Homo sapiens: one gene and its partners. The protein of the gene in region 2 interacts with the protein of the main gene of each other region in a pairwise test. Each region holds a gene or a part of one and is shown on either strand. Other genes may lie near its edges.

Region 1 (4,307 bases), on a different chromosome or scaffold from region 2:
TTCCCCCTCAGCCTTCTGAATAGTTTGGACTACAAACAAGAACCACCGCACCCGGCTAACCATTTTTAAGTGTGCAGCTCAATGACATTAAGGACAATCACATTGTTGTACAACCATCACCACTATACATTCAGAGAACATATTTCATCTTGCAAAACTGAAACTCTGCCATATAACAACTCCCATTCCCTCCTTCTGCCATGTTTTTTTTTTCAAAAAGGCATTTTGAAAACCAATTGTAACTTACCAAGTCATGGACATAGCACATACAGGGAGTAACAGCCACCAGAAATAGTCTCCCTTGTCCGAAAAGACAGCCATGAGTACTCCCACCAGGGTGGCATTGTAGCCATAGAGCCCAGATGCTATTAATGACCTGTGGGGCAAGAGACACAGCACGGACATTTCCTGGGTGAGCTTTGGTTGCACTTGCACATAAATAACACTAGTAACTTCCAGATCATATTCATATTAAAAAATGAGATTATATTTGGAAATGTATTTCAAAGTCTACGTAAGCATCGTACAAAAACTAATAAAGACATGAAGTGAAATATACATAGATAAAAATATAAATGTGCATTTAGATCAGTGGTCCCCAGCCTTTTTGGCCCCAGGGACAGGTTTCATGGAAGACAATTTTCCATGGATGGGGAATGGGGGATGATTTCGGGATGAAACTGTTCCACCTCAGATTATCAGGCATTAGATTCTCATAAGGAGCAAGCAACCTAGATCCCTCACATGCCCAGTTCATAATGGGGTTCGCACTCTTATGAGAAGCTAATGCTTCTGCTGATCTGACAGGAGGCGGAGCTCAGGTGGAAATGCTCACTCGCCCACCGCTCACCTCCTGCTGTGCGGCCCAGTTCCCAACAGGCCACAGACAGGTACCTGTCTCCAGTGCAGGGGTTGGGGACCCCTGATAGAGAATGACTCCCTCTACAGGTGTCACGGCTAAAGACAGGTCTACAGTGGCTGAGAGGAAAGGGGAGTTTAGTAAGGCAATCTGCTCTGTTTTCTTTTAGCCTTTCCTTTGGAAAGTTATTCTTTTAAATCAAGAGCCTCTGACTTGAAGAGCGCTTTTAGCATATGAAACTGTTGCTTAAGTTTGATTTCTTGGTGAGAGATATAAGATTCCTGAAATGTAAATTCACTTTCACAGTGTCTTTGATCTTATCAACATTAATCTTCCAGGTTAGTATACATTTTTGTGTCCTGATGCTTCTATTTTGTTGTCTCCAAACGCACATTTCAAAGTTATTGCAAAGAAGAACAATTGCTTTTCTCTTACTTGGAGAAGTATCCCATTTAATTATGTGCATGTTGAGCACCCAGTTCTTTCTGAGGTTACTTTTTGCTTAGTATTCAATCTCATTTCTTCCCCGTCTTCTTCTCCTTCTTTAGATTGAGGGGGTACATGTGCAGGTTTGTTACATAGATGTATTGCATGATGCTGACTGAGGTTTGGGCTTCTATTGAACTCGTCACCCAAATAGTGAACAAAGTACCTGATAGGTAGGTTTTCAACACTTGTTTCCCTTCCTCTCCTCTTTTGGAGTCCCAGTTGTCTACTATTTCCATGTCCGTGTTTACCCAGTGTTTAGCTCCTAATTGTAAGTGAAAACGTGTGGTATTTGATTTTCTGTTACTACATTAATTCACTTAGGATATTGGTCTCCAGATACATCCATGCTGCTGCAAAGGACTTGATTTCAATCCTTTTTATGGCTATGTAGTAGTTCGTGTTGTATATGCACCACATATTCTTTATATAATCCACCATTGATGGGCACCTAGATTGATTGACCTGACAAGGCAGGATTCCCACAGCTCTGAGAGTTGGCAACGTCTGGCACCGTGAAAGGCACAGGATCCACTTCCCAAGGGCCTGTCACTCAAGGATGATGTCTGTAGGGGGATGGGGGAGTAAAGATGGTGAAGTGAGTAGGTGAGGCCTAATGCTGGGCTCGAGCAGGAGGTGCTATAGCCAGTGAGCCACACTGCAGGGGCTGGTAAGGGATAGTGTGACAGCTGCTTCTTGGCTTGTTTCTAACTGGGCCAGGAGGCACCATTGCAACAGGCAAGATGATGTCACGTACATTAATCCAGATGAACATTAAATGTGGGGTTCCCTATTCAAAAGTTCTTTGTTTCCCTTAAATAATCCTTGAGGGCAAATGGGAGGTGATACAATTTGCAAAGGTACAACTCAGAGACTGGGACTACACATGACAGTAGAGAGCCATGCAGACTTGTCCTCTCAACAACTGACTTGGAGATGTTAATGCTTGAGTTTGATCAGTGGAAAATTAATGGCAACATCTACAAATTGTGGAATGCCATAGTTAAAGCCACAGGAAGACATATATTTACTTAAAACAGAGAATTTCCATTTTAATGCAGTCTTTTCAGACCAAGGAAAGTAAAACATTTGAAACTAACACATATAAATGACTTGTCTTCTAAATAATATCTGACAAAAAATGAGTTGATCATGTTTCATCAGAGCAAAATCATAAAGGAATATTCAGTATGGCACAATTATAGACTCCATCCCCAAACTGAGGAGACCTTTTCTTGGCATGCATTGGAATAGAGTTTAACCTAAGCTATAAAATCCCCTTCTACAGGGAGCAAATCAGACTCCTTGAAATTGATAGAAAAGTGGAGCATTTGCTAACTCTCTCCCCACGGACCTCTTTAGGCAATTTGCAGCCAGTGTTACAAGAGCTTAGTTGTGTAATGACCACACTGGGGATTGGGATTATGCGTTGATCTCAGACACCTGGAATACTGGTTCCCTCCCTAAAGGAACTGGCTAGTGGGGAGCTATCTACTGCCCTGGTGAGAGTCAGCTCATCACTTCTTCAATGACAGATCAATTTATAAAGTGTGTGCTATTTTTAATCTAATCAATATATCAGAAGACTCACTAAGGCTTCTTAAGTCAGAATCCACTCAATTGGAATTCATGGTTATTCTTTTCTCCAGGAGCTGAGCTGACCTTTGCACTGTCTATGAAGAATGAGTTTCCTAAACTCATCATAGCAACAAGATATAACGGGGGTTATTAAGCCACTAAAACTTTTTCTGAATTCATATGCACTTTTTCCCAAATAGAATGCTGACGACAAATAATTTTATCAATCATTAAAGAAGATCCCTTCAGAACCTCTCCAGGGAAATACTTGTAGCTTAGTTCTGGTTAGCACGTAATGCCACAAGAATCTGGCATCATTTAGACCAGCCATTTATTCAGATATCAAGAGCAAGAGACTGTAACTGATTCCCTGACCTCTGACTAAAAACAAATATAAACAGTTCTGTGGACTAAATGTTGTTTATCCTGGGAAGGATGTGGTTTTATCACTGTTGCCCACAGTAACTGGTCAGCCCCTGTGTCTCAGAAGGGAGCTGAGAAGGCTTGAAAGGGTACACCTACCTGTCCTGGCTGAGCAAGAGGGCCATCAGAGTGGAGACCACTGTTCCCAGCCAGCCAGTGAGAGCCCACCAGGGGTTCTGAACAAGAAGTCCTACCAGAATCAGGATTCCACTGACGGGGTTGTTGACGAACACCACTTGGGATATGCCCCGGAGAATCCAGTCAATGAACTGGAGCACCACGGGTTTGTCTGGAAGGGATGAGGTAAAGCAGAGCTAAGGAAGCTGCCAAGTGATACTCTTCAACCACAGGCCCACCCTGAGCAAAATCAGCAAAACCTCCTGGAAGTGAAACATTTTTGATATTTCTTTAATATTTCTCTCTCAACCCATTGTTGCATTAGTGGCACCCAGATCCCTGAAAGCCTCTATCTACTGTATGCTCAACCCACACTGCCCCTCCTAGAATCTAAGCTCCTGAAAGCATCTAATGCACTTATTTTCATGCTTATAGGTACAAATTCTGAAGCCAAAGGAATAAATTTAAGTTTTAAGTACTGAAACTACAGGATGAAGCCAGGTGCCTTCTAATATGAGCTGGGCCCTGGCTACTGTCTCCATAAGAAAAAAAAATGGAGAGGTTTGCAGGTTAAAAGATAAAAGTAGAAAAATGGTGAGTAAAGAGATCTATAAAAAGTTGGAGAATATAACTAAAGGTATAAGTAGAAGTACCAGGAAACCATTTCCCCCAAAGCTACTTCTCCTGTCTCTCCAAAATGTGAAAGGATAAATACCTTTAAGCTGGTTGGCAAGTTCTTTCATGTCACCGGTGACATAGCCAAGAGCTTTGGGGAAGCACCTTCTCCCTTGACATGGCGAAACCTGGTTTTCACCCCTAACCATAGTGGGGCTGTCCACTCTAA
Region 2 (4,300 bases):
TAGGCATTAGCACGGGCATCCTGGGTGTGTGTGTATCTGTGTGTGTGATGATGTTTGAAGGCATTAGCTCGGTGGCATCCTGGCATGGAAGGTCTGTGCCTCCATTCTTGTTGCTTTGGTGTAGGAAATGCTGATTTTGTTGCTTCTCTATGGGGCAAATAATAATAAACGCCTTGAGTTATTCTCATATTCTCTTTGAAAAATGCCAAAATTTAACATCTGTCATTTTCTTCCTGAAATAGAAGGAATGTTTCCCTAGAGTTAAAAAACCTGTAGGAGATCACCTAGTGGTTGGGCTGAAACATGCACAATAAATTTTTTTTCTTGGATTGCACCAAATCACTGCTTGGAAAAACTCATTTTTTTATTTACTTTTTGTTTTTCTTTCTTTTTTTTTTTTGATTTTGTTTTTGAGACAGTCTCTTGTCGCCCAGGCTGTAGTGCAGTGGTGCAATCTCGGCTCACTGCAACCTCTGCCTCTCGGGTTCAAGCAATTCTCCTGCCTCAGCATCCCAAATAGCTGGGATTACAGGTGCTTGCCACAACGCCTGGCTAATTTTTATATTTTGTTATAGATGGTGTTTCACCATGTTGGCCAGGCTGGTCTCAAACTCCTGACCTCAAGCGATCTGCATGCCTCAGCCTCCCAAAGTGCTGGGATTACAGGTGTGAACCACCACGCCTGGCCTGGAAAAACTCTTATTTTATTATGAAACAGTAAGAATTTAGTTTGGATAAGAACATGGTAAGGAGAGGATGGGAAGCATTTTGTAGTATCATTTGCAGCTGGGTAACATTGCTTCTGGTAAAAATAAGGAAAAACAAGTGAGCATCTGGCTCTGAAATCAGTCTGTGTTCCCATTCTAAATTATAGAAGTACAAGATTGGTGAGTAGCAACCACTGGTTTAGAGATCGTGCGTGCAGGCCAGGTGAATCTTTTATGTATAACAAGGGTGGGTTGAGTCAAATAGAGTCAGGTATAAGTGGAAACAGTTTCATTACCTTTGGTAGGGAGGCCATAACTAATAATTTTTAATGACCAGTCGTGAGCTGCGATTTTAATGGGATTAAACTTGAATATCTCCAAATATGTATTAATTACATTCAATTAATCATTATGTGCTAGCCATTATTTTAAAGACTACATGTATTAAGTCACTCTCTTACCAATAGTGAAGTAGGCACTATTACTGGCTCTATTTTATTGATGGGGACACAAGTGTAGGGAGATTAAAGGCCTTGCCTAAAGCCAGGCACTCTACCCCAGGTCCTACACGCCTCACCCATCTGCCAGGTGCCTGGGCTTTCTACTCTCCTACTCACAATTAGTCCCAGCCTCATTCTGGCATCAGGTGGCAGGTATATGACTGTGGGCAGATGGTTGGTTACGATTATGATAATTCATTATTACGACATCTGGGTGATTGTTTTTTAAATTTTGCTGATCTCATCTTGTAGGCCTTAGAAATTAAAGTGCTGTACAAGTCTGCCTCAGTTTATGAAATAGTTGGATCAGAGAGGTTGTAAACAAATTGAATAGAAAGTGAAGTTCAAATGGCCAGAATGCCTTTTTTTTTTTTTAATTTTTTTTTGAGATGGAGTCTCGCTCTGTCACCCAGGCCGGAGTGCAGTGGCTCGATCTCGGCTCACTGCAACCTCAGCCTCCAGAGTTGCTAGGATTACAGGCGTGAGCCACCACACCCAGCTAATTTTTGTATTTTTAGTAGAGACGAGGTTTCACCATGTTGGCCAGGCTGGTCTCAAACTCCTGACCTCAGGTGATCCACCCGCCTTGACCTCCCAAAGTGCTGGGATTATAGGCATGAGCCACCGGGCCTGGCCCAGAATGCCTCTTAAATTTTGCAGTCAGGCCGGGTGCAGTGGCTCACACCTGTAATCCCAGCACTTTGGGAGGCTGAAGCGAGGATCGCTTGTGCCCAGGAGTTCGAAACCAGCCTGGGCAATGTGGCAAAACCCCGTCTCTACAGAAAATTAGCTGGGCTTGGTGGCGCATACCTGTAGTCCCAGCTACTGGGGAAGCTGAGGTGACAGAATCATCTGAGCCCGGGATGTTGAGGCTGCAGTGGGCCGAGATCAAATCACCACACTCCACCAGCCTGGGCAACAGAGACTGTCTCAAAAAAAATAATAATAATTTTATAGTCAATCTTTTAAAGCAGGTAGTGTCATCCAGTATTTTTAAAAATCTAAAAAGCAAAAAAGGGATCTTAAGAAAACATCTAGTCCAAGTTGCTCATTTTACAGATGAGGAAGTAGAACCCTGGAGAGGGACAGTGACTTAGCCTTTGTGTTTCTTATCAATTCAATCCTATTCAAACCACATTCCCATCCAGAAAAGTGCTTAGAAGGAAGCGAAGGGCATTGCTATGAATTTCAATTTCAAATTAAGTACAAATTTGGATATCCTTTGGTCAATAAATTGGTTATCTAGCCAAAGCCTTTCTGAAATTAATAATATGCTAACAGGATATTTGTTTCTGGATGTTTGCTTAAAGTGCTCTTGCAGCAGTGGGGCTTCTATTTCACAATAGCGAGGCTTTATCTTTTGATTAAAAATTAACAGGAAAAATATTCTTGGATTTTCCATTGTAAGTAAGATAAATTCTTACCCTGGAGTTGCCTTTATTAATCATAATATCAAGACTTATTTGTCTTTGAAGGCCTGTGTGTCAGGGCAGCGCCACATCTAGGAGGTTAAATGTGACAAACGTTTAGTAGTCCACATAGAGCCAAGAGCACTAGGCTTTGGGCTCCTATAAAAGCCCAAGATGGGAAGCCTTAAACTCTGCTTCTTTTCTCTGCCTGTAGCCAGGTCAGCATGGATCCGCATCCTTTTTATTTGACAAGGTAATTACAAGCGTGGGGCCCAAGCTAGAACTGAGACGCTAAAACCCTGCATAACCAAGAAGCTACTAGGTAGTTTGTAGTTTGGGGCAGAGTTTGTTCTTCCACTAAAATCCTGTCTCCTAAAATAAACCAAAAATTAGAATTAGGGGAGTTAAGGAACTTGTTTGTCATATTGGAATTAAAGTGTCCAAAATTACATCGCCACAGAGGTTAGATTTACTTCCCCTTTCACTCCCACCCCCACCCCGCAAAAAGAAGAGGGAAATTCAATTCATTTCTGCATTTGAGGGAATCTGGCCTTTGGAGGAGTTTGGTGTGTAGTTGCCATTACAAAAGGGAAAGTGTCAGGATGGTTTTCATGTGTATTTGTTTTTTTAAACAAAGAATGATATTGTTGACAGAAATGTCACATTTGTTCATTCAGCGAACACCCTGAGTGCCTACCAAGTGCCAGATACTTATTGTTGCTCCTGACAGTGGCCAACACACCTGGATGTGTTATCTTGGAATTATGAACAGATTCTGGGTAACACAAAGAAGGGGCTGGAAGAGTTGAGAAAATTTCAGAGAAGGGAACATTTGAGTTAGGGATAGTAAGTTTTTATTAAATGACCACCTAGGCTGTGTCACAAAAGCCAGCTGGACATGCCATCTGCTGCCGGGGTAGTGGGGGGTGGCTAATTAATGACAGGCTCCTCCAGTGTATTTTCAAATGAGCTAGCGCCGAGCCTGTTGAGGGCAAGTGGCTGTAATTCATCATGATCGTTTTCTTTTTCAGTTTAGAAACCTGCTGAAGTGGTATGCTAAGGAGTTCAAAGACCCACTGCTACAGGAGCCCCCAGCCTGGTTTAAGTCCTTTCTGTTTTGCGAGCTTGTGTTTCAGCTGCCTTTCTTTCCCATTGCAACGTATGCCTTCCTCAAAGGTTGGTAAATGGTGGGAAAATCCCATTTTTACTCAGAAATCAGGTCCCAGAAATCTTTTGGGAAAGTATCTCCAAAGGGAAGGGGATGGTCCCCATAGTTTGTGGGAGAATGCTACAGGATCTGGGGTAAATAGCCAGGGTAGATCTTGTAAAGGGACATTAGTGTGGCTCAGGCTCATGTCTGTGGTCAGCAGGCCTGCACGGCTGCCTCAGTCGTCTGGAAATCCCTTGCATACACATGAAGCCTGAGACCACTTAAACAATGAGCTTGTTCCCTTTTGTTTTGTTCCCCAACAGAATTAATTTCTCTTTTTGTTGGCTTTTATTTCTCTGCGTTGGATAGTATCATACTGACTTATAAGCTGTAGCATCAGGCTAATCCCTAATGTGCTTCTCATTTTAAAATTATTCTTAGTGTTCTCATATAATCAATGCTTTTTTAAAAAGGTGACCATACACGTGTACTTGATAAGCTAAAACCACTGAAAATGCTCGTTTCCCATTGGCA
Region 3 (4,795 bases), on a different chromosome or scaffold from region 2:
ATAGCCACTGCCACCACCTCCCAGCTGACTGGCAGGAGAGCTGGCCTGAACTTGCCTCTTCCACTCTCTCATCTCCTGCCTGTGGGAGCTGGACCAGCCTCCCAGGACATGGAGCAGGACGGAGAGGGGATCTGGGGCAAACAGAGGCCATACAGCCCTGGGCCTAGCCGCTGCCTCCTGCTACTGCAGAGGCTGCTAAAAGCTGCACTTCCCCGACTCGTTTGCAGCTAAAGTTCCAAGCTGAGGGGGTCACTCAAGGTCCTGAGGGTAAAGCACCTAGCCCAGGGCTCAGCCCACACTGAATGCCCCATAAATGAAGGCCCGTCCAACAGGGTCTCCTCCCCAGGGAGGCTGTCCCCTGTGTCAACAAGAGCCAAACTCTGTAAAATATTTGAAGACATTTATTCTGAGCCAAATATGAGGGACCATGGCCTGTGACACAGCCCCCAGGAGACCCTGAGAACATGTGCCCAAGGTGGTCAGTGCACAGCTTGATGGTACCCATTTTAGGGAGACATGAGACATCAATCAAATATATTGAAGATATACATTGGTTTAGTCCAGAAAGGTGGGCAGCTGGAACTGGGGGCTTCCAGGTTATAGGTGGATTTAAACATCTTCTGGTTGGCAATCGCTTGCAAGAGTTATCAATAGAAAGGAATGTCTGGGTTATACGGGGTTGTGGAGACCAAGGCTTTATCATCAGATGAAGCCTCCAGGTAGCAGGCTTCCGAGACAATAGATGGTAAATGTTTCTCATCAGACTGAAGGCCTGTGTTGATGTTAACGCTGGCTGTTCCAGAGTTCTGAAGGGAGGAGGGATAATGAGGCTATCCAACCCTTTGCTGTCATGGCCTGAACCAGTTTTTCAGGTTAACTTCGGAAAGCCCTTGCCAAGAGGAGGGTTCCACTCAGATGGCTGGGGGGCCTTAGAATGTTACTTTTGGTTTATACCGGAACAGCCCCTGCCCCTGTCCTTTGCAGCACCTGCTAATGATCTGTCAGTGACGCTGTGACCAAGGCTCATCACCCTGCGGGCCGTGGGCCCCAGAGGGCGGCACAGCTTCTATAGGAGCACAGGGCCCAGGGAGGTGCCCTCATCCTTGGCTGGAAGGCCGAGGCCTGGAGGAGTCTGGAGAAAGGGTCTCCCTTGTCTGGCCTTGCACTGTGAGGTGGGGGAGGTGGGAGAGGCATAATCTGGGTCTTGAGGACGTTTCAGCCCTCAGCCCGGGGTGGCTGAGATATGGCCCTGGGTAGGCTCTGTCCTCCAGAGGTGGAAAGAAGGACAAAGGGAGAGGGAGGTGCAGGTCGCTCAGGGAGGAGACTCGGACCTGCCCAGCCCCGGGGCCCTCACTGGCTCCAGGAAACCCGCTGGTGTTGACTGTGGGCAGTCCAGCCTCTCCCCATTTGAGGCCATATAAAGTCACCTGAGGCCCTCTCCACCACAGCCCACCAGTGACCACGAAGGCTGTGCTGCTTGCCCTGTTGATGGCAGGCTTGGCCCTGCAGCCAGGTGAGGCCTTGGCTGGCCCCCAGCAGGGAAGGGAGCAGGGGTGAGCCGGGGAGGCCAGAGGGATACCTGCAGGGCACACGGAGAGGAGGGGAAGGAAGGAGGAAGGGAGAGGAAGGGGGTGAGGCTCTTGCCCTAGCCTCCGCTCCTCCAGGGAAGCTCTTGGCACGACCAGGCAGCGACCTGTTCCCTGCCGTCCCCTGTGACCGGGGCTTGCAGGGGCAGCACGGAGTCACTCTCCTTCACCACCGTGGGGCAGGGCCTGGCTCCTAGGGGGCAGGTAGACAGACTGACGGATGGATGGGCAGAGATGCTGATGAGGAGCTGGGAGACATGGGACAGGAAGCCTCAGGCTAAGAAGTGGTTTTTGGGGCACAAGGGGGAGGTGCTGGGGGTGTCCTGCGAGGACCCGGGGGTCTACATCCGGCCCAGTCCCAGCACTGCAGCTTCCAAGGGTCCCAGGGAGCTGCTCTGCTTGAGGTGGGACCCTCCCGACCCAGGGTCCCGGGTTCAGTCACCCCCACAGCCGCAGCTTCCTCTTCTGAAACACACGGTCACAAAAGCAGCCACCGAGGGACTAAACAGGGCAACATTTCGGAGGCACTGAGCAGGGGGCCGTGAAGATGGGGAGGAGACATTGAGGGTGACAAGAGGGCGCCGAGGACTTCCTCAGGCCACCGCCATGGAGGCCCACCTGCCTGGGAGCCCCCATTCCTGGGGAGTGCTATGGGGCAGCCTCTGAGGCCCCTCCCACTCCACCCCACAGGCACTGCCCTGCTGTGCTACTCCTGCAAAGCCCAGGTGAGCAACGAGGACTGCCTGCAGGTGGAGAACTGCACCCAGCTGGGGGAGCAGTGCTGGACCGCGCGCATCCGTGAGTGGGGGGACGACAGCCGCCAGGCCTAGGTCTCTGCCACTGAACTATTAATCTTTCTGGCCATCTGTCCGCATCTGTGTGCTGTTTTCCTTCCACCTGTCCCCGACCCGTCCCGCACCTGCACCCCCAACAATCACCCAGCATCTGTCCCTCCAGCCATCCTCCTCCATCTGCCACTCCTCCACTCATCTGTCCCTCCCCATCCTCCATCTTCCACTCCTCCACCCATCTGTCCCTCCCCATCCCTGAGCTCACTTACTCACTCACCCCATTTCTGACGCTCAGCGGGTGGTCCATCTGCCTCGGACATCTGGATAGGGCTGAGACCAGGGCCGAGACCAGGCCCTCGCACTGCTTGCAATCCTGAGGCCAGCCCAGGGGGACTCTAGAGCATTAGGCAGGGTGGGACAGGAGGAGGCCTGGGGCAGGTCAGGCAGGTGAGCACACAGGGCAGCCCCATCCCCGGATCCCGCTGCTCCCCAGGCGCAGTTGGCCTCCTGACCGTCATCAGCAAAGGCTGCAGCTTGAACTGCGTGGATGACTCACAGGACTACTACGTGGGCAAGAAGAACATCACGTGCTGTGACACCGACTTGTGCAACGCCAGCGGGGCCCATGCCCTGCAGCCGGCTGCTGCCATCCTTGCGCTGCTCCCTGCACTCGGCCTGCTGCTCTGGGGACCCGGCCAGCTCTAGGCTCTGGGGGGCCCCGCTGCAGCCCACACTGGGTGTGGTGCCCCAGGCCTCTGTGCCACTCCTCACACACCCGGCCCAGTGGGAGCCTGTCCTGGTTCCTGAGGCACATCCTAACGCAAGTCTGACCATGTATGTCTGCGCCCCTGTCCCCCACCCTGACCCTCCCATGGCCCTCTCCAGGACTCCCACCCGGCAGATCGGCTCTATTGACACAGATCCGCCTGCAGATGGCCCCTCCAACCCTCTCTGCTGCTGTTTCCATGGCCCAGCATTCTCCACCCTTAACCCTGTGCTCAGGCACCTCTTCCCCCAGGAAGCCTTCCCTGCCCACCCCATCTATGACTTGAGCCAGGTCTGGTCCGTGGTGTCCCCCGCACCCAGCAGGGGACAGGCACTCAGGAGGGCCCGGTAAAGGCTGAGATGAAGTGGACTGAGTAGAACTGGAGGACAGGAGTCGACGTGAGTTCCTGGGAGTCTCCAGAGATGGGGCCTGGAGGCCTGGAGGAAGGGGCCAGGCCTCACATTCGTGGGGCTCCCTGAATGGCAGCCTCAGCACAGCGTAGGCCCTTAATAAACACCTGTTGGATAAGCCAGAGAGACCCTCTGTCCTTGCACACCCCAGGCGGGCACCGGATCCAGGGCTGTGTCTGGACCAGGGCCCTGGTCACATGGGCTGCAGCCTCCGCCCTAACAGGAGCAAAGCTTGGCCCCTGAAAGGAGGACGTCCCTGCAGAGGGTGGGAGGGCAGTTCCCAGGACTTGCACTTGCTGTGCTGCCTGGAGCATGTGGCCAGACCTCTCTGAGCCTTGCGACTCATCTATGACCCCTCCTTGCTGGGAGGATGGACCCAGAAAGTTCACAGGAAGGAGAGCGTTCCGGGGGGAGGGACTGCTACCATTCAAGCTCCTACCCATCCCCTTGGCCTGATTTGAGCACCCCCATTTTTCAAAATTTGTTTTAGAGCTGCACACCCACCATACAGCATTCAAACACTACAGCAGGGTCCCCGGTGACAGGTGGCCTCCCCCAACCCTGAACCCCAGCGCCTTCCCTCTCTGGGGTGCCCATTACACCTCCAGAGGCTTCTTTCTGGGAGAATCTGTGCCCCGTGAGCATCCCCAGGCCCCTGAGTGGGAGGACACCATCCACACTTGCCTTCTGCGCTCAGGGGAAGCCTTTTGCACACAGCCTGCTTCCCGCCCTAGGGCTAGGGGTGCAGCCTGTGACCTGGGTGGGGACCTGCTCAGGGTGAGGCCTCCAAGGGTGTTAGGGGTGGGGCTCGGGGGGCGGTTTCAGAGAAGAGGAGACAGAGGCTCAGGAAAGGGAACGGGTCTGTTGCCCACATCCCATACCGAGCCAGGATTGGAACCCTGGCCTGGAGCTCTGAGGGTGGGTCATGGAGCAGACAGTGGGCAGAGCTGTGCTGGAAAGAGCCAGGCCTCCCGTCTGACATGTGACTTCACGGGGAGACCTCCCTCCTGAACACTGGGGGCCCAGGGTGGCATTGTCAGCAGGGTGCAGCTCCCCAGGCCAGCATCTGAGTGACCCTGGGCACTGGTCACACCCTCCCCGCCTCGCCTACACCCAGCCCAGCCTGCCCGGCTTCCATGGTGAGCTCTGGGCTTCCATGGTGAGCTCTGCCCAACACCTACCCACCCTCCCAGGCCCAAGGCACACTCAGACCTGCCTTGGCCCAGGGCCTGAGTCCAGAGT
Region 4 (4,307 bases), on a different chromosome or scaffold from region 2:
ACTGGTTCAGGGGTCTAGTAAGGTTCAGCCCTGGTGAGACTTGGTGAACATCAAGCAGCATCACAGCTGCTCACAGTCTTGAATAGGAGGGACCTTGGCAGGAGCTCGTATAGTCTGACCACTCTTCCCCTACAACAATCATCCAGCCTGTACTAGCTCTTCGCTACCATCAGCGTAGACTAGCATATGATGTGTATTGACCCCTGACTCCATGCAAGGCCACTATGGAAGCAGGGAGGGGACAAAAGGAAATATATGTTTTAATCTCTGCCCGAAGAATGAACAGTCTGGTGGGAGACTGGCCTCACCTGTCTACAGAGATAACAAATGCCAGGCAAGCATGCCAGCTGTCAGGGCATGGTGCAGAATCTGAGGCTGCAGGAGAGAGGGTGGGGCTCCTGTTCTTGGTCTGGGCTCCCTGGTCTGCAATGGCAGTGGCTTAGGGGGAAGGCCCTGGGAAGCTCACTCTGGTGATCCTTGTTCCTCCACAGCCCTGTTCTGTGCATACATGGAAGCAGCCATCTCCAACATCATGTCAGTGGTAAGTGTGGATTCTCCTGAACACTACCCCAAAGTGCTCTTCCCAGAGCTTCTGGACATATGGGGTTGTGGGGTCTGGGAAAGGAACATTGAGCGGGTAATGGTAGCTGGTGCTCACACGACATCTCTGTTAAGGTTTATCTAAGGTTGTCCGGAGGAGGATTGACAATTGCATACATGTACCTCTAGGAGAGGGAGGGGTGTGTGTGTGTGTTGAAAGATTGCAATGTAACTAGCAGTGGAAAACACGACGGACAGATGGAGCTGTGTGACTGGACATGGGGGAACATCCTCAGGCCAATTTTCAGCTCCATCATTGAAAGATTCTGATTGTGGCTCAAATTATCTGTTTTGTTTTTGTTTTCTTTGCAAGACAGGGTCTCGCACTGTTGCCCAGGCTGGAATGCAGTAGTGCAATCTTGGCTCACTGCAGCTCCAACCTCCCAGGACTCAAGCCATCCTCCCAGTTCAGCCTCCCAAGTAGCTGGGACTAGAGGCATGCACCATCATGCCCAGCTGTCTTTTGTATTTTTTTGGGTCTCACTTTGTTGCCAAGGCTGGTCTGGGCTCAAGTGATCCTCCCACCTTGGCCTCCCAAAGTGCTGGTATTACAGGCATGAGCCACTGCATCCAGCCCTAAATTCTTTGACCAACTACTGTGACATTGCAAATCCAGGAATATCAATGCCTTCACTGGAGGGAGGATCTCCATCCTCAACGCCTGTCACATCCTTCTCCCCCAGAGTCCCCAGCCCAACACAGGAAACTAGGAAACTTCTTCAGTCCCCAATGCTTTTGTTTCCAGGTGGGCGTGCCACCAGGCACCTGGGCCTTCTGCCTTGCCACCATCATCTTCCTGCTCCTGACGACAAACAACCCAGCCATCTTCAGACTCCCACTCAGCAAAGTCACCTACCCCGAGGCCAACCGCATCTACTACCTGACAGTGAAAAGCGGTGAAGAAGAGAAGGCCCCCAGCGGTGAATAGCCATGTTCGGGGAAGAAACGCTCTTTGCCTGACCTGATGTCCTCTCCCTGTGTTCTCTGCTCTGGTTCAATCAGTTGCAGCACTCACCTTCTTTGCCTCTCCTTGCACCTGTGTAGAACCAAGCACACCTGTAACTTTCTTTCCCTGAAGCTGATTTTCATTCTCTGCCAGAATCTCCATAACTATCTATTGTGCGACATTAAGGGATGTTGGTATTACAGTAAAATTTCCGGAGTTAGCAATAAGGTGTGTGTCTTAAATGTTGTTGACTTAAAACAAAAACAGTAGTCTTTTGGAAAGGTAATTAACAGGTGATCTTCTTGGCATCTTAAACTAAATAATAGATGCTATAAAATTAAACTTGTTGAGTGGTTCCTAGGCAGACACAGAGTAGGGGGGTAAGTCAGGGGACACAGGCTAGGAAGGGAAGGCTCTCTAGTGGCTGAGCTAGAGACTAATGACCACAAAGAGAGGAATTTCACACTGATGGGATTTTAAAGTCAAAACAGGGACGATTGGGGCAGGGAATTATCTAAATAAGGAGTCTTAACCATTCAGTGGTCTTTGTAAGGGGCAAGGCGATATTCCATAGCAGGGAGGAATTAATAAATTAGAATCCTATATATGACTTTATTATGGAGGATAAGCATTTCTTAGTTTAGGTCAAACCAGCATCTCTTTAAAATTTAATTTTTTTAATTTTAAGTTCTGGGATACATGTGCAGAACATGCAGGTTTGTTATATAGGTATATATGTGCCATGGTGGTTTGCTGCACCTATCAACCCGTCATCTAGGTTTTAAGCCCCACGTGCATTAGGTAGTTATCCTAGTGCTCTCCCTCCTCTTGCCTCCCATCCCCCAACAGGGCCCAGTGTGTGATGTTCCCCTCCCTGTGTCCACGTGTTCTCACTGTTCAACTCCCACTTATAAGTGAGAACATGTGGTGTTTGATTTTCTGTTCCTGTGTTAGTTTGCTGAGAATGATGGCTTCCAGCTTCATCCATGTCCCTGCAAAGGATATGAACTCATTCTTTTTATGGCTGCATAGTATTCCATGGTGTATATGTGCCACATTTTCTTCATCCAGTCTATCAAGACTTTGCTATTGTATACAGTGCTGTGATAAACATATGTGTGCTTGTGTCTTTACAATAGAATGATTTATAATCCTTTCAGTATATACCTAGTAATGGGATTGCTGGGACAAATCAAACCAGCATCTCTAAGCAGAGATTTCAGTTAAGGAAAGTACCTGAGTTCCATGTGTAAAAAGCTTGGGAAATTTACTTCATTCTTCTATTTGCTTGTGAGCATGGGAGGCTTTATGAAGTGTATGATATTTAAAACAAATAGGTAGCCCTGACTATAGAAAGACAATTATCTATGAATTTCATAATTTTGTTTCTCAACTATAGTCAATAGCTTTCATTTGGTCTTTTTAAATATATATATACATATACAAAGATATATATAGATCGGGGTCAGCAAACTTTTTCTGTAAAGAGCCAGATAGTAAATATTTTCTGCTGGGAGGCCATATATTCTCTTTGGCAAAGTCTTAACCCTGTCATTATAGCATAAAAGTAGCCATAGACAACGTGTAAATGAATGAGTATGGCTATGTGTCAATAAAACTTTATTAAACAAGCAGTGAGCTAGATTTGGTCCACAAGCTGTATTTTGCAGATCCCTGATAGAGACAGTCTACATACTAATGCTTACAAACTGGTGGGCGGTGCACAGGCCCAAACAGACACCACCAAGTCCCTTGCGACATAGCAAAGGGGTTTTACATGCTGGTGACAGCATGAAGACCCTCAGGAAATGGAGGATACCCAGAAAAGTGACAGTAGCATGACTGGAATCAGGAGGACCTGCTCTGGGGCTGCTGGAGAACTAGGATACCCAGTGATGTGCACTAAGGGGTGCAGTTTTAAACCAAGACCCGCCTTCTACATTGTCTGGGAACTATTTCTAAGGTTCACTCTTCTCCAACCTCTCACTCTGTTGTTCTCTCATCTGCCAGAAAGCACACCACTCTTGGACAAAGAAAAACTGATGACCCTTCAGTGCTGGAGTTTTCCAGGCAGGAAGGACAGGGAGGTTCAGAGAATCCCAACGTTTGAAGGGAGTGTGAAGATCAGGTGGTCCGATCCCATGATGCATGAAAACCTCTATAATATTAGGATAAGGGCTTCAGTTCTCTGCCGGGTTTCCAGAACAGATTCAATTACCCAAAATGGAGGCAAGGCTCCCAAAGTATTTTAACAACAGATAACCAGAACCAGAGACCCCACTCATTGCCCTAGAAAATCCCCTCCTGTCTTCATTAAGCTCTTTGAGGCTGTCCACCCAAAGCATTGGGTCTGATTGGGGACTGTCTTTTAGCCATGCTTACTGGATCCCCAGGAGAGGAAAACTATTTGGATATAAAAAATTATTTCAGCTGATTTGGACAAGATTATCGCTTTCTTTTCCCACCAACTCCCCCCATCTCCCCCACCCCTGCCAACTCTTCACCTCATCTCACGAGACTGGAGAGCTCCTGGAGTGATCTTGTCCCACCTTCCCCAGGGCTTCCCCACCTCATCTACCTGCTGAATGGGTAGGTAAAAGATCTCTAAACTTACAGATTCACAGCACCAACATGAGGTTGCATGGGGGCAGGCCATGATGAGAGAAGAAGAAGGGTTTGGGGACCCATATTCTGGCAGTTTTTCTACCATCACCCCAAACTACAAGCAACAGCTCTTGGCTGTACAAATGAGAGTGTCTAT
Region 5 (4,775 bases), on a different chromosome or scaffold from region 2:
GGGTGGAGGTGAGGGTGCCTGGTCAGTGCTCCTGGGGAGGTCTCTGCAGTGGGCATGGTTTGGGGGGTAGGGGCTGTGACGGCATGTCTCACTGTGGACACCGTCCCGGTGCCGAGCAAGCTGCAGCCAGGTAAGGAGGCCACAGGCTGGGGAAAGGCCAACCTTGCAAGGGGTGCTGGGCACACGGGGGATGGTGTCTGCAGTGGGGCTCCATGCACCTGGGGTTCCCGTCCCAGGTGGCATCTCCACACACCCAGAGCCAGACTCCGCCGAGGGGGGCTCATTCTGGTGTCCCTAAAGCCTCAGGAGGCAGAGAGCCCCGCTTAGATGATATAGGGTGCCATCGTGCACTTATAGGGCTGTGAGCATGGGGCTGGAGCAGCCAGGCCCTTTGCATCCTGGTGGGGCAGACCCGGGACTCGCTGATGCACACAGGGGACCCCAGAGTTCCCCCACAGTGTGTGCCCCTCCTTTCTTATATCCTGGATCCAAGCAGAGGAGCAGCATGGGGAGGTCATGGAGCCCCCTCTTGGACCTAGATCTGGGGATTCTGGCCCCTGGCTTCAGAGGCCCAGGTGGAGCCCACACCTTCTCCTGCACCTGCTCTCAGACACTCGGCTCCACCTCACTGAGGTACCAGAAGGGCAGCTGGGTTCCTATGGAATTCTGGAAGCTTTTTTCAGCTTCTGCTGGCTCTACACTGGGGAGGTCTCAGGGGCAATGCCTCAGCCTCCCCTTGGGGGGAAAGACAGGAGCTGGGGGTCTCTCAGGCACCTGGCCCTGCGATGGTGACACTGACGTCATCGTGATTTGTCGCCATGGTTCTGATGTGGTCACAGTCTCTCAGGCATGTGCAGGGTCCTAGGAAGCATACGAAGTGCATCAGGAACCCCCTCCTGCCCCCGTTGCCGAGGCAGCACTGCCCTCTGCTAGGAACAGCTCCGTGTTGGCCTCTCTGTCCCCACACACTGGGCCTGCAGGGCTTCTCCGAGACTCTTCAGTTCAGGTATCAACCCTGGGCTGTCTCCTGGGATGTGGGGGGCGGATGTTCTTTCCTTGCCTCCCCACGCTCCTCCTGCGGATCCTTCACTCCGGGTGGGTCGGCCTCTTCCTCCTGATCAGCTCCAGAGCCCCCTCTAGTTCCCTGGCATGGAAACACGGCCCGGGTGAGCTGTGGTGGCCCCGGAGGCCTCTCCGCTCCTGCACAGGCCTTGCTTCCTGCGGGTGACGAGGTCCTGGACTCTCTCCTGCCCAGGCTTCTGGGTGCTTTCCTTAGTTCAGCACCAGTGCTCTGTGTGGGCAGCGTCTCCCCCGAGGATCCGCAGCTCCGGGTTACCCGCAGGCGTCCATCTCCGGTATGGTGCTGCCCTTCACTGATCCTGGTTGTATTTCTGTTTCCTGCTTTCCTCATCGCCTCCTGTTTCGGTTGATTCCTTCTTTTTGCTGGTGCCCGTCTCACAGTAGCTTCCTGAGAACGGGGACCTGGCAGGTACACTTCAGACCTCCTGTGTCTGAAATAGTGTCCTGGTTCTGACCTGCACTTGAGTGTCGGTGAGGCCTGGGCAGGGTTCCGGGTGGGAGCTCAGTTTCGTCCTGAGTTTCTCAGGCCCCAACCATGGCCTGTGGTGGCTTCACGGGCTACAAGGCAAAGGACGCAAACGAAGAGGCTTCACGTGACAGGGTTGTATGCTCAGCCAGCTCTGGAGGCTGGAGTCTGAGCTGGCAGCACTGACAGGGTCAGCTCTCCTCGGAGGCTGCTGGGGAGGAGCCTCCTGCCTCTTCCGGGCTCCGGGGGCCTCTGGCACCCCCGGTGTCCCCGGGCTTGGAGACGCAGCACTCCCATGTCTGCCGGTTCCCCTGGCCGCCTCCTCTGTGTCATTGTCTGTTCTCTTCATATAGGGACACCAGTCATCGAATTGGAGGTTCACTCTACTCAAGTATGACGTCACCGTGATTTCACTGATTTTATGTCCCAGGCCGTATTCTAACAAGGGCACATCCTGTGTTCTGGGAAGGGCGTGTCGCTGGGGAAATACTCTTCACCCGGCTGCAACCTCTCACTGTAGAACTGCCTCTGTGGAGAAGCCCAAAGGGCATTTGCGGCTTCTAGGAGCCAAGTAGGAGGAGGCTGGGATCCGTGTTTCAGGCGGGACTCCAGGCTTGGGCGGGCCTGATACTCGAGTCCACATGCCCCCTCTAGAGAGGAACCTGTCTCCTGCCAGGGCCAGGGAGGGGGGCACTGGCTGCTTCTGTATTTTGGGGTTTGGGGCCCTGGAGCTTCCCATGCGGAATTGCCGTCCCTCCTCCTAGGCGAGTCCCAGGGCCACCCCATCCCACAGGGACCCGGGCGCCAGCTTCTGAAAGCATGGGGCATCTGCGGAAGAACTGGGTTGTTTCCCAGCTTTCGTCCCTGCGGAGGGGCGATCCGGCCCCTCCATGTCAGCAGTGTTTGGTCGTCCACATGCTTGTCAGCCCCACGCTGTGCTCCTGCGTCTCTTCCCGTCTCATCCATCTGGATGCTTGACACCTCTGACAGCATCCCTTTCCTGTCATCTTAGGGCAGCTTCAGGAAACCGAAAAACAGGCTTGTGTCCTTCCATTAACCCCTTTATCCACAAGTTCAGTATCAGCATGAGCCCTGGGGAGCTCCAAGGCTGCAGCCAGGAGCCCCGTAGCCAGGTGTGGACATGGGGCTATCTCCCTGGGTGTGAGCGGCCACCGGCACCTGCTGGCAGCACCCCTGAGCAGGTCATCCCGCCTCCCTGGGCCTGCCCTCCTGGGAACAGAGCTAGGACCAGTGTGGGCCTGGAGGGCCGAGTGAGGGGCAACTGTAGGCAAGCTGTAGGCACAGGGGCCACTGTCAGGAGCCACAGCAGCTGCAGGTGGTGACAGGCAGGGCCCCCTCAGGCCAGCCCTAGTGGAGCTCACACACTGTGGGTTAAATCCTTAGAGGAGTGAGATCAAACTTGAAGAGGATCTACTCTCCCCTTCTGCCCGGAACACCTGCCCTTCCCAATGACCTGGAAGGCAGGCGGGGATTTAGGAGTCTCTGCTCCTGGAGTTCTGGGAGAACGTTCGCATGAGGATTTAGCCAGGCCCAGCCTCCCACCCAGGGGCATCCACATCTTTCTTGTCCACTCACATCCCCCACCTCTACGCCAGGCCACAGCCCTGCAAGCAGCCACCCTGGGACGCCACATCAGGTCCCGGAGGAAAATGGCCACAGAAGCTCTGGGAGTGGCTCAGGACAATGTGGGGGGAGGGGAATTCCAGTCACTCATCCCAGAGGGTGGTCCAGAAGTACAAGGAACCCCACCGGCTTGCCCCCGTCCCCATGGCTGGCATACCCAGAGAGAGGGGCATGACCAGGGCGGGAAGACCAGGACCAGGCAGGAGCTGGGCCTCAGGGTTCTTGGGGCTCCTGGCCAGGCTGCCTGGCTCGCCTGTCCTGGCACAGGCCTGGGAGTGGGTGTCCTGTCTGTGTTTGGGCCCAGGAGCCCCGCGGCCCACCTGGGACCTGCCTTCTCTTGCAGGGATGGTCCTGGCTGTGCTGCTGCACCAGGGCCGCCTTCCCCACCTTTTCCAGAGGAACCTGTTCTACGGCCAGAAGAACAAGTACCGAGCACCCCGAGGGAAGCCGGCCCCGGCCTCAGGGGACACCCAGACCCCTGCAAAGGGGTCCAGTGTCCGGGAGCCTGGGCGCAGTGGTGTTGAGGGGCCACATTCCAGCTGAGTGGCCTTGCTCTGTGTGAGCCCCGTGCGAGGGCCCTGCTTGTAGCTGGACCCTGGAACCTTCTGTAGCTAAGAGGGAATCCTGGCCCCCTCCCCAGAAGCCATTTGTCAATAAACCATTTCTAAGACCTGTGTGTCCCCCTGGGCCCGAGAGAGGCTTCTGGAGGGGCAGGCAAGGGTGTGCGGCAACACGGTGAGGCTGGTCCGAGTCTCCCCATCTCCCGCGGGCTCCTTCCTGCCTCTTGTTACAGAAGAAGCAGGAGAGGAAAGGGCAGGATGACAGGGAAGAGCCCAGGGAGTCCGCCAGGTCCCAAGTCTGCCAAGATGATGCTGCAGCCCTGGACATGCCCGGGAGGGAGCCCACAGCCACGGAGGCCTGAGACCCGATGGGATGCTGAGGATGGTGCTGGAGCCTGAGGCTGTAGGCTTGTGAACTAGGCACAGGGCACCCAGTCCCACGGGCCCTGAGTTCGCGACCGTCAGGACCATGGTCCGCTCGCCGCCCAAAGCCAGGTCAATCACTGAGACCTTGGTGGCAGAACTGGGACCTGGAGGCATGGCACCTCCAGCCATTTCCTTCCCAAAGAACAGAGCCGGTCTGGAAACTTCCACCCAAAGGAGATAACGGCCCTCTGCTATGGGTCCTGCTGCCCCACCCAGAGGGAGGGAGTGAGGTGGCCGGTGCTCCTGCCACAGGCTGTACCCCGTCCTCTGGTGGGCAGCAGCCCTGGGCTCAGCCGCTCTGCTATGGGGGAAGGACGAGAGGAGAAAGCAGGGAGATGTCCTCGATGCGGGGGGCTACGGGACACCCCAACCCCAGTGAGACCTCCACCCCGGCCAGCGTCCAGGCTCTTGACACCATCGTGAGAAGGAATTCAGGGGCGAGTTGGCAAATAGTGAAAGACCAGAGATTTCCTGCGAAGCCCAAAGCTCCCACTGGAGAAAGGGAGTGTGGCGCCCTCTAGAGTCCCGTCCCGGGCAGGGGCGCTGGGGCTGGAGGAATCCACAGGATTCCTGGAAAACGTGGAGATGTCTCAGAGCTG
Region 6 (4,307 bases), on a different chromosome or scaffold from region 2:
TGGAGCAGCTCTGGGGCAGGCATGGCTAGTTTTTATCATATCAAAACATGGCTAGTTTTATCATGATTCCTTGGCGGTTGTTAATAATATTAACCAAACACTGTAGCTTCCATTTACTGAGAGCCTATATGATGTGCCAAGCAGTATGCTAAATGCCTTACCTTCATTATCTCATTATAAACTTCACAAGGCAAAGCACTTCCCCTGCCACACCCGCCCCAAAAAAGAGTGGCAGTTTGATATGGTTCAACCTAATGCCTTTTACGTATGAGGAAGCTGAGACTGAAACTTTATGTAAGTCCAGGGCTGTCTGACTCTGGAACTTGTGCTTGTTTGCTGTCTGAAGATACTGCTCAATAAGATGTAGCCAGCTGAGCAATAGCAAAGCCAGTTTCTCTGCAAACTTCTATCAGTTACACTGCACAGTTTCCAAGATGGATGGGGTTCAGTTTTTGTGAATCTTAAACAGTTCAAAACCGAGTATTAGTAACTCTTCTTTTCATATTTTACAGGATACCATGAAATAGATTACATCCCATGTTCTATACATTTAATAACCTTGTTTTTGGGTTTAATGTAAACAACCTTTAGTGGCCACTACAACATGTAAGACCCTGCGCACTACTAACAGTAATAAGATATGATTCCTGACTGAAAGGAATTCATTCTTTAAAAATGTATTTTTAATTTTTATAGATGTATAATAGTTGTACATATTTATGGGGTACCTGTGGTATTTTTATACAAATATGTACAATGTGTAATGATCAAATCTGGGCAGTTTTTTGAGACAAGGTCTTGTTCTGTCACCGAGGCTGGAGTGCAGTGGTGCGATCTTGGCTCACTGCAACCTCTGCCCCCCAGGTTCAAGCAATTCTCATGCCTCAGCCTCCCGAGTAGCTGGGATCACAGGCGTGTGCCACCACGTCTGGCTAATTTTTGTATTTTTAGTAAAGATGGCGTTTCACCATGTTGGCCAGGCTGGTCTCAAACTCCTGGCTTCAAGTGATCCACCCACCTTGGCATCCCAAAATGCTGTGATTACAGGCGTGAATCACAGCACTGGCCTGAATCTAGGGTTTAAAAAAAAAAAAAAAAACGCTGCAACAGAGCCTCCAAATAACATGAAAAAATAAATCCAGTAAGATATTACTTTATATGCTTGGAACTAAGTGCTTAACATTCTGTGATTAATAATAATAAAATTTTGAGGGTGAAGCAATTGAGCACAGTATCTACATATTCTAAAACTGAACTGTAGTCACTTGTGGATTCTGTAAATATTTGGCACCAATAAACATTAATTTTTGGCTGGGCGTGCTACCTCACGCCTATAATCCTAGCACTTTGGGAGGCCTAGGTGGGTAAATTCCTTGACCCCAGGAGTTGGAGACCAGCTTGGGCAAGATGGTGAAACCCATCTCTACAAAAAATAAAACATTTAACTGAGCTTAGTGGTGCACACCTGTAGTCACAGCAGGAAGACTGATTGAGCCTGGGAGGTCGAGGCTGCAGTGAGCCAAGGGTGCACCACTGCACTCCAGCCTGGGTGACAGAACAAGACCCTGTCTCAAAAAATAAATTTTAAAAATTTATAAACATTAATTTGAGCAATATCTGTTTTTCAAGAAGGAAATTTGTGGTGTAGTGAGAGTGTTTAGCAGTTGACATGCCAGTCATGCCACTTAGGTCAGTGTAGGTGCCTCCGGAGTAGGCACCGTCAGGAAACTGAGCGACTGGGTGGTAGATGAGAATGGGCATTGACCGGGCATTGAAGCTCAGTTTGCATATCGAGAGAGGAAGCAAGTATTGGCTTTATTTTTCTTGTTAAAGTAATTCATACTTGAAAGAATTGAAACTGTGAAACTGTGTCCTAGGGAGGGTGATGGTCTGGTTTTGCCAGTCCAGCTTCTCACTGATAACCACTCTAATGTTAGCTTTGATGTGGCTTTTTCTCTATTCCGAAACTCTGAATCAGAGAAATTTAGCAGTAGAAGGAAGTGAAGAAATAAAGTCACAGTTGTTAACCTAAAATAATTTAAAAGGTCAAAATCGAGTTTAAAGAGAGTTTAAGTGTAAAGGTTGAGGACAGGCCACCTGGGAAAGGACAGATTTAAAAGCATGGAAGTCAGTGCTCGTCAGTATAGACATTTGGGATTGTTTATATAGACAAAATTTAGGGACATTTAACAGAATTTTAATATCTTAATGTAAGGCTTAATGTACAGTTATAATGATCTGATTAGTCAAGGTGCGTTTTTTAGGGAAGAAAGAATGTAACTGTCATGAGACCCCTGTTTGGGGCACCATCTGGTCTGAGTTAGGTACAGGACAATAAAGGAGGCAGTTAATCTGTAATAAAAATCAGCAATTAGAAGGAGGAGATCTGGTCTCTTTTAAAAAAAAGACTTAGTCTTTTTTTAGTTGTTTATAGAACAAGAACAATGAGGAAGAGTTAAGCTAAAAATCTAAGAAACAGAATTGTAAACATGTTACGTGACCCAGATCATAGTCATATCTCTTTCAAGGCTTAAGGTGCTTTGGAGGTTCTAAAAACGTTTGAATTTTATTTACTTTTACACAGTTGTTGTAACAGAATTGGAACTAAAATTCAGGGCTCCTCATGTCCAAGCAACAACTGCTTGGGCTTCAGTTTAGAGCCTGTATGGTTGGACAGAATCAGCAGCACTGTTTAGTTCTGGATAATCACTGACTGTGAACAACAAAAGTTGGAGAACAGAAGTCCTTGATTTTGGAATTCATTTTCAGGACTGAGGTATTATGTCATCTCCCCAAGTAGGAAATTTTGTTTCCTGTTTATCTTCTGGAGTTATAAATCAGACCAGCCTCTTTCCAAACTGAAGTGATGGTACAATACCTCATTTTTGAGCCACTAGCACCTGCAGTTGCTTTTTTACTCCAATTTTATGAGAAACTATGGCAGAAGTTGTGCTGTCGAAGCCCCCAACAAGCAGGTCAAATGGCATTAGTAGATCTCCATTTGACAGCCTGGCTTTTGTTGGGATTTCCATGGGACAAGAAAATGCAGTGCCCTTCCCTTTTCCTCTCAACACCGCTGAGAATATCTGCTGTCAAATGATGCAAATAAAATAATATGGACATGCAATACTTAAATATCCTGGATCTCTGAGCTCTTGGAAATGTACATGAAGCAATATCTTAAGAGTATAATCACAGGCCGGGTGCAGTGGCTCACACCTGTAATCCCAGCACTTTGGGAGGCTGAAGTGGGTGTATCACGAGGTCAGGAGATCAAGACCATCCTGGCTAACACAGTGAAACCCCATCTCTACTAAAAACAGAAAAAATTAGCCGGGTGTGGTGGGGGGCGCCTGTAGTCCCAGCTACTCGGGAGACTGAGGCAAGAGAATGACGAGAACCCGGGAGGCAGAGCTTGCAGTGAGCCGAGATCGCGTTGCTGCACTCCAGCCTGGGCGACAGAGCAAGACTCCGTCTCAAAAAAAGAAAAAAAAAAGTCTCAAAAAAAAAAAAGAATATAATCACATAGTAGTCAAATATTTATATATAATATATATTATATATATGTTGTACAGTATAATTTATTCGCATTACCATTGATTGCACCTTGAAGGACATAGAAACAAATGCAATGCATTTTTTTAAGTACAAAATAATAAACGGCCTAAATGTATAGCATAGAGGAAAATGTGAGTAGGAATAATTACAATGCATTTGTTGATAGACTTAACTTACAAAGCACTTTCACCTCTGTTCATTTGTTTTAACCTTCACAGCTCTGTGAGGTAATTAGAGGTTGGAAATCTTGACACAGGGGATAACATTTGGGTTATCTTTGAGCAGATGCAAGTAGTTCTCAGTGCCCTTAGGACTTTTGAAACAGCTACAGCACCTCTAATTTTAAGAGAGGAAACCTGATGAAATAAAAACCTAAATTGACTCCGTGGCCCACCCCTAGCTTATTTGAGGCTCTTCAGTTCAGTTGGCAGCTCATTTAACTGTTCTTTTGAATGAAAATACTGCAATTAGAGCTGTTTCTGTGAGTTTCCTGGTGTGCACCTTCGTAATAGTTACTTGAAACCAGTCATTAAAAGTTCCATATATCAGGCGATTAGTCCGTGTAAAGCTGATGAAAGCTGCCTTTCATCTGTTTGCGTAGGTTTCTTCCATGAGTGGTAATTTTCTTGCAGCCAGTTCAGATGATTTTCAAAGGTATTAAGACGTCTATACTCAAAATACCTGATTAGTGATGATATTGAATAAAACTTTTTTCAGCTCAATAAGTTACATAAATGCAGAACTTTATT
Region 7 (4,307 bases), on a different chromosome or scaffold from region 2:
AAAGTACACATATGGCAAATAAGATATAAAAGGCTGTTTGACATCATTAGCTATTAGTAAGTGCAAATAAAAACACAACAAGCTATTACTGTATACCCATCAGAAATGGCTAAAAAAAATCATGCTAACACCAAATGATTGTGAGGATGGAGAGCAAACTGGATCACTCATAAGCTTGCTAGAAACATAAAACAGTACTGCCATTCTGGAAAACAGTTGGGCAGTTTTAAAATATACTAAATATGCAACCACCGTACAACCTAACAATTGTCCTCTTTGGCATTTATCCCAGAGAAAGAAAATGTATTTTCTAACAGAATCTTGTAGATGAATGTTCATGGCAGTTTTATTTGGAATAGCTAAAAACTAAAATCTACTCAAATGTTCTTCAATGGATAAATGGTTAAACAAACTGTGGTATATACATACCATGGAATACTACTCAGCAATAAAAAGGAATTAACTATTGTACTGATACATGCAACAACTTTGATGAACCTCAAGAAAATTAGGATGATTGAAAAAAGTTAATCTCAAAAGGATATATACTGTATGATTCTATTTATATAATATTCATGAAATAACATCATTAAAAAGATGGAGAACAAATTATTGGTTGCTAGGGGTTGGGATGGGGAGAAGGTTAGATGTGGCTATAAAGGGGTATTATGAGACAGCCCTGTGTTAAGTACATTGAACACGGAAGTAGTTACATGAAGCTATAAATGTGATAAAATTATATATATATATATATATATATATATATATATATACACACACACACACACACACACACACAAATGAGTGCATAACTCACAAAATATGAGTAAGCCGTATGGGTCATACCAATGTAAATTTTCTGGTTTTGATATTGTCTTACAGTTATAAAAGATACCAATACTGGGCAAAACTAGGTACAGAATGCATGGGACTTCCCTGTGTATCTTTGAAATATCCCAATAATCTATATTTCAAAAAATTTTTAAAAATCATTTATTGCTCTATAATGTATTAATAAAATCAAATATTATTTTCAAAATAGATTTGGGATTATTAATAACCATTGCTTGACAAGTTCATAATATTGGAAATGAAGTTTACATATTGGTAACATAATTTCTCATACAGTAAGGCTGAAAATAGAACTGAGCTACATGAGACATGTTTTCTTATTGCCCTAAGTGAAAATATTACTACTTTGAATTTTCAATTTAACCTCTAAAATGATTTTTAAAGGTATACTATAAAAAGCATGGGATTGTTTGTAAGGTTCAATTTAGCAAGATGCAATGAAAAAATAAAACAAAAATATTTCTATGTGAGTTAACAAGAAGACATATTGTTTGCTTCTTGGTAAATGACTTTATAAAAATTGACTTTACAAAGTACATCTAATTTCAGAACACAGTATCTTCCAAAATCTATTACCCTGGGAAAATGATGGTATCAAGTAAAATGACTCAGACATTATGAAAATTAAACTAAAAAGAACAATTGGTTCTTAACACTATTAATAATATAAACAAATAAGTTAATTTTACCTGATTTCCAACTTTGTCTCTTCAGATAGCTCTCCAAATTGTATCTCTTCTACCTGTAGTTCTTTAAGAGCAGCCAGAATTTTCTGCTGGTCTTTACTGGTAATTCCATTCTAAGCAGAAATAATTTTAAGGTACAGTAAGTTAGTTATACTTGAGTAATTTAAAACTCAAAATTGCTAAAGATGTTTTCTTGATGAATTCACATCTTGAAAAAATAGGCATATATTGGAAAAATAACACACTTCTAAAAAATATGTTTTTCTTATAACTGTGATTGATGTTAGTTACAGCATTAGAATATTGAGATATATAATAACTATAGTCAATTTTTTTGCAATACATAACAACTATGATGGACTCCCAAAACAAATTACTAGAACTTAATATGTAATATTTCAAAAAAACACAGTAAAACAAAATTTCCTTCAAATTTTTATTTAAAATATTATCAGTGATAAATGAGAATTAGGCCCTATCTTTGTTTGTATTCTACCTTTAGTGTTAAACTAAATTTTCTATACTGGATTTAGTTTTGTAGTATGCTTACTGATTTTTAGTGATATTAAAAATGTCAAGTTTCCAATGTGGTCATGCAGTCAGATCATTGCTTTTTACATATGCTATTTATCAAAGTGTCTCTAATACATCCCGCAGCTATATGTTATTAGATAATACTAGATGGCAAAATAAAAGGTCTCAGTTTTGAGAACCAAACAAAAGGCTTGGGAGACGTGTTAATACCCATATACATAAAAAAACTATCTCTTATTTGTAAGTGCCCCATTTTACAAATCTATTGCACATTTGAAACTGAAGGATCAGTTCTAGCTGTCATGACAATCTGAAAAAAACAAAAACAAAACCCAAACTATAAGTCATTACATGTTCTTAAAGTAACTTAATACTAACACAAGATTTTAGATACGGTTATCCATAATCATATCTAATCAAGGACACAGTAGAAGATCAATCTTTTGTCTATAGCCCTGGCATTTTAAAAAGAGAGAAGAAAAGGATCCACAATTTTAAAAACATCAAACAATGTATCGGGAATTTTTGAAATTGATACTAACCTTTGTAAATTCATCTTCCCTCATGGTCAAAAGATGTCTTAACGTTATATCCCTTTCCTGTATAAAAGGAAAAAAAGGCCACCTTTCCATATAATTAAAATAGTAGAAGGAGAAGTAGGCAAATGTTCATAAGTTAGTTACTTGCTTCACTCTGAAGCAAATTCCAATTTTCTAGAGGGGACAGGATATATACATGCAGAACTATGCTACTGAGTAGACAGTAATGAGTATCATAATAATTATATTCACCTAAAAAGTATAAATATAGCTAGTTTTCCAGATTCAAATGATTACCATTCATATTTGCTTACATTAAAAGAAAAGCAGTTCTATAAAATTTGGCAGAAATTATGTTTTATGAATATTTTAAATTTCTGACTGTATCACATTAAACCAACATGTAGTTTTACTCAAGATTTCTCCAAATAGGGAGACATTTCAAGATTATACAATGAAGCACAACTCTGAAATATTTTAACAGAATGTGCACACTCCCAAGAAGAGTCTATCTTAAATAGTGCTTTACTGCTTCAGTATCTCCACCTAGCTGGTAACAACTGTCATGGACTCAAACCCCATAATGTATGCTTAAAACACCCACACAGTGCTTGGCATATGATCTGATTTAACCTTCATGACAACCCAACACTAGGTATTATTATCCTTATGAAGAAAATGAGATATTTAAGTCACATATTTCAGTGATTAAACATTAGAGCAAGAATCTGATACCAGGTGTTTGGTTTAAAATCACGCTCTTCCAATATTCTACTCAAGAAGATGAGCAACTACAGAAACAAACTAAGGGCTCAGGTGTATATGAAGGTTAGGCAGTGGGTAAAAACTGTTTAATCTCAGATTCTAATTTATGTAAATTTCTAGAATAATACATTTTTGCAATGTTTTTCACAAATTTAAAATTGGGATGTACTACAAATTATGGTGAAAAGTAAATTGGCAGTTATTCATAGACATGTTTATGAATTAATATCTAACATTATATTAACCAACAAATTAACATATATGCATAACTCACTGTAGGTTATATAAGATCTTACCTTTAGTAAATCTGTCATATGTTCAAGTCCAAGACCATGTAAAAATACTTCCAGATCTCCAAATGCTGTATATGAACTGTATACATTTATAGCAATGTCAATTTCAGAACAGATTATAAATGCACAAGCGATAAATATACATTTATATTGCAAGAGAATATGAATAATAATGAATTCATGTAGAATATATTTGCAATCTGCACACCAGACCTATGCTATATCAAAGGAATAAGTAAGGTTTTGTGACTGAAGATATATGAGGAGTATAACTCATCTTTCCCCAAATGAAAATATATGCCAGTATGTACTCCTTGTGAAATTTCTGCACATAAAAATCTCCTCAGCCTGGTACAGTAGCATACACCTGCAGTCCCAGCTACTTGGGAGGCTGTGGCGGGAGAACTGCTTGAGCACAGGTGTTTGAGGCAAAAAAACCCACAAAAAACAAAAAATGAAAAAAAACCACACCTCTTTAATTGCAATAAGTAAAATTTAAGTAACTTTAAATGGGGTAAGGAGAGAATTATTTTTGGCCATGTACTCAACAGTGGTGTTCTGGGGGGAAAAGTATATGTTTAATTTTAGCTTATAAAATTAGAACTGTACTAAAAATAATTAGAAAACAAGGTGTTATA

The links.
Region 1: the proteins of TMEM97 (region 2) and SLC14A1 interact in binary tests that used the Homo sapiens proteins (3 or more experiments, as listed by UniProt).
Region 3: the proteins of TMEM97 (region 2) and PSCA interact in a two-hybrid assay, tested with the Homo sapiens proteins (one large-scale study listed by BioGRID).
Region 4: the proteins of TMEM97 (region 2) and SLC14A2 interact in binary tests that used the Homo sapiens proteins (3 or more experiments, as listed by UniProt).
Region 5: the proteins of TMEM97 (region 2) and AQP12B interact in binary tests that used the Homo sapiens proteins (3 or more experiments, as listed by UniProt).
Region 6: the proteins of TMEM97 (region 2) and RNF170 interact in binary tests that used the Homo sapiens proteins (3 or more experiments, as listed by UniProt).
Region 7: the proteins of TMEM97 (region 2) and ASZ1 interact in binary tests that used the Homo sapiens proteins (3 or more experiments, as listed by UniProt).

The regions. Positions count from the first base shown.
Region 1 is NC_000018.10:45,730,343-45,734,649, reverse strand, and holds part of SLC14A1 (urea transporter 1), read right to left. Parts: coding exon 4,179-4,307; intron 3,636-4,178; coding exon 3,446-3,635; intron 377-3,445; coding exon 248-376; intron 1-247. UniProt on the Homo sapiens protein: Mediates the transport of urea driven by a concentration gradient across the cell membrane of erythrocytes.
Region 2 is NC_000017.11:28,321,856-28,326,155, forward strand, and holds part of TMEM97 (sigma intracellular receptor 2), read left to right. Parts: intron 1-3,647; coding exon 3,648-3,792; intron 3,793-4,300. UniProt on the Homo sapiens protein: Sigma-2 receptor which contributes to ameliorate dysfunctional cellular processes and slow degenerative progression by regulating cell functions including cholesterol biosynthesis/trafficking, membrane trafficking, autophagy, lipid membrane-bound protein trafficking, and receptor stabilization at the cell surface.
Region 3 is NC_000008.11:142,679,051-142,683,845, forward strand, and holds PSCA (prostate stem cell antigen preproprotein), read left to right. Parts: upstream 1-1,444; 5' UTR 1,445-1,488; coding exon 1,489-1,513; intron 1,514-2,276; coding exon 2,277-2,384; intron 2,385-2,870; coding exon 2,871-3,082; 3' UTR 3,083-3,675; downstream 3,676-4,795. UniProt on the Homo sapiens protein: May be involved in the regulation of cell proliferation. Has a cell-proliferation inhibition activity in vitro. May act as a modulator of nicotinic acetylcholine receptors (nAChRs) activity.
Region 4 is NC_000018.10:45,642,641-45,646,947, forward strand, and holds part of SLC14A2 (urea transporter 2), read left to right. Parts: intron 1-491; coding exon 492-541; intron 542-1,345; coding exon 1,346-1,520; intron 1,521-4,307.
Region 5 is NC_000002.12:240,675,503-240,680,277, reverse strand, and holds the end of AQP12B (putative aquaporin-12B), read left to right. Parts: intron 1-70; coding exon of another isoform or gene 71-130; intron 131-493; coding exon of another isoform or gene 494-792; exon of another isoform or gene 793-839; coding exon of another isoform or gene 840-1,006; exon of another isoform or gene 1,007-1,255; coding exon of another isoform or gene 1,256-1,355; exon of another isoform or gene 1,356-1,467; intron 1,468-1,899; coding exon of another isoform or gene 1,900-1,937; intron 1,938-2,558; coding exon of another isoform or gene 2,559-2,679; intron 2,680-3,533; coding exon 3,534-3,733; coding exon of another isoform or gene 3,734-3,752; 3' UTR 3,753-3,860; downstream 3,861-4,775. UniProt on the Homo sapiens protein: Putative aquaporin. Could form homotetrameric transmembrane channels, with each monomer independently mediating water transport across the plasma membrane along its osmotic gradient.
Region 6 is NC_000008.11:42,889,467-42,893,773, reverse strand, and holds part of RNF170 (E3 ubiquitin-protein ligase RNF170), read left to right. Parts: intron 1-4,307. UniProt on the Homo sapiens protein: E3 ubiquitin-protein ligase that plays an essential role in stimulus-induced inositol 1,4,5-trisphosphate receptor type 1 (ITPR1) ubiquitination and degradation via the endoplasmic reticulum-associated degradation (ERAD) pathway.
Region 7 is NC_000007.14:117,378,397-117,382,703, forward strand, and holds part of ASZ1 (ankyrin repeat, SAM and basic leucine zipper domain-containing protein 1), read right to left. Parts: intron 3,749-4,307; coding exon 3,673-3,748; intron 2,672-3,672; coding exon 2,615-2,671; intron 1,652-2,614; coding exon 1,542-1,651; intron 1-1,541. UniProt on the Homo sapiens protein: Plays a central role during spermatogenesis by repressing transposable elements and preventing their mobilization, which is essential for the germline integrity.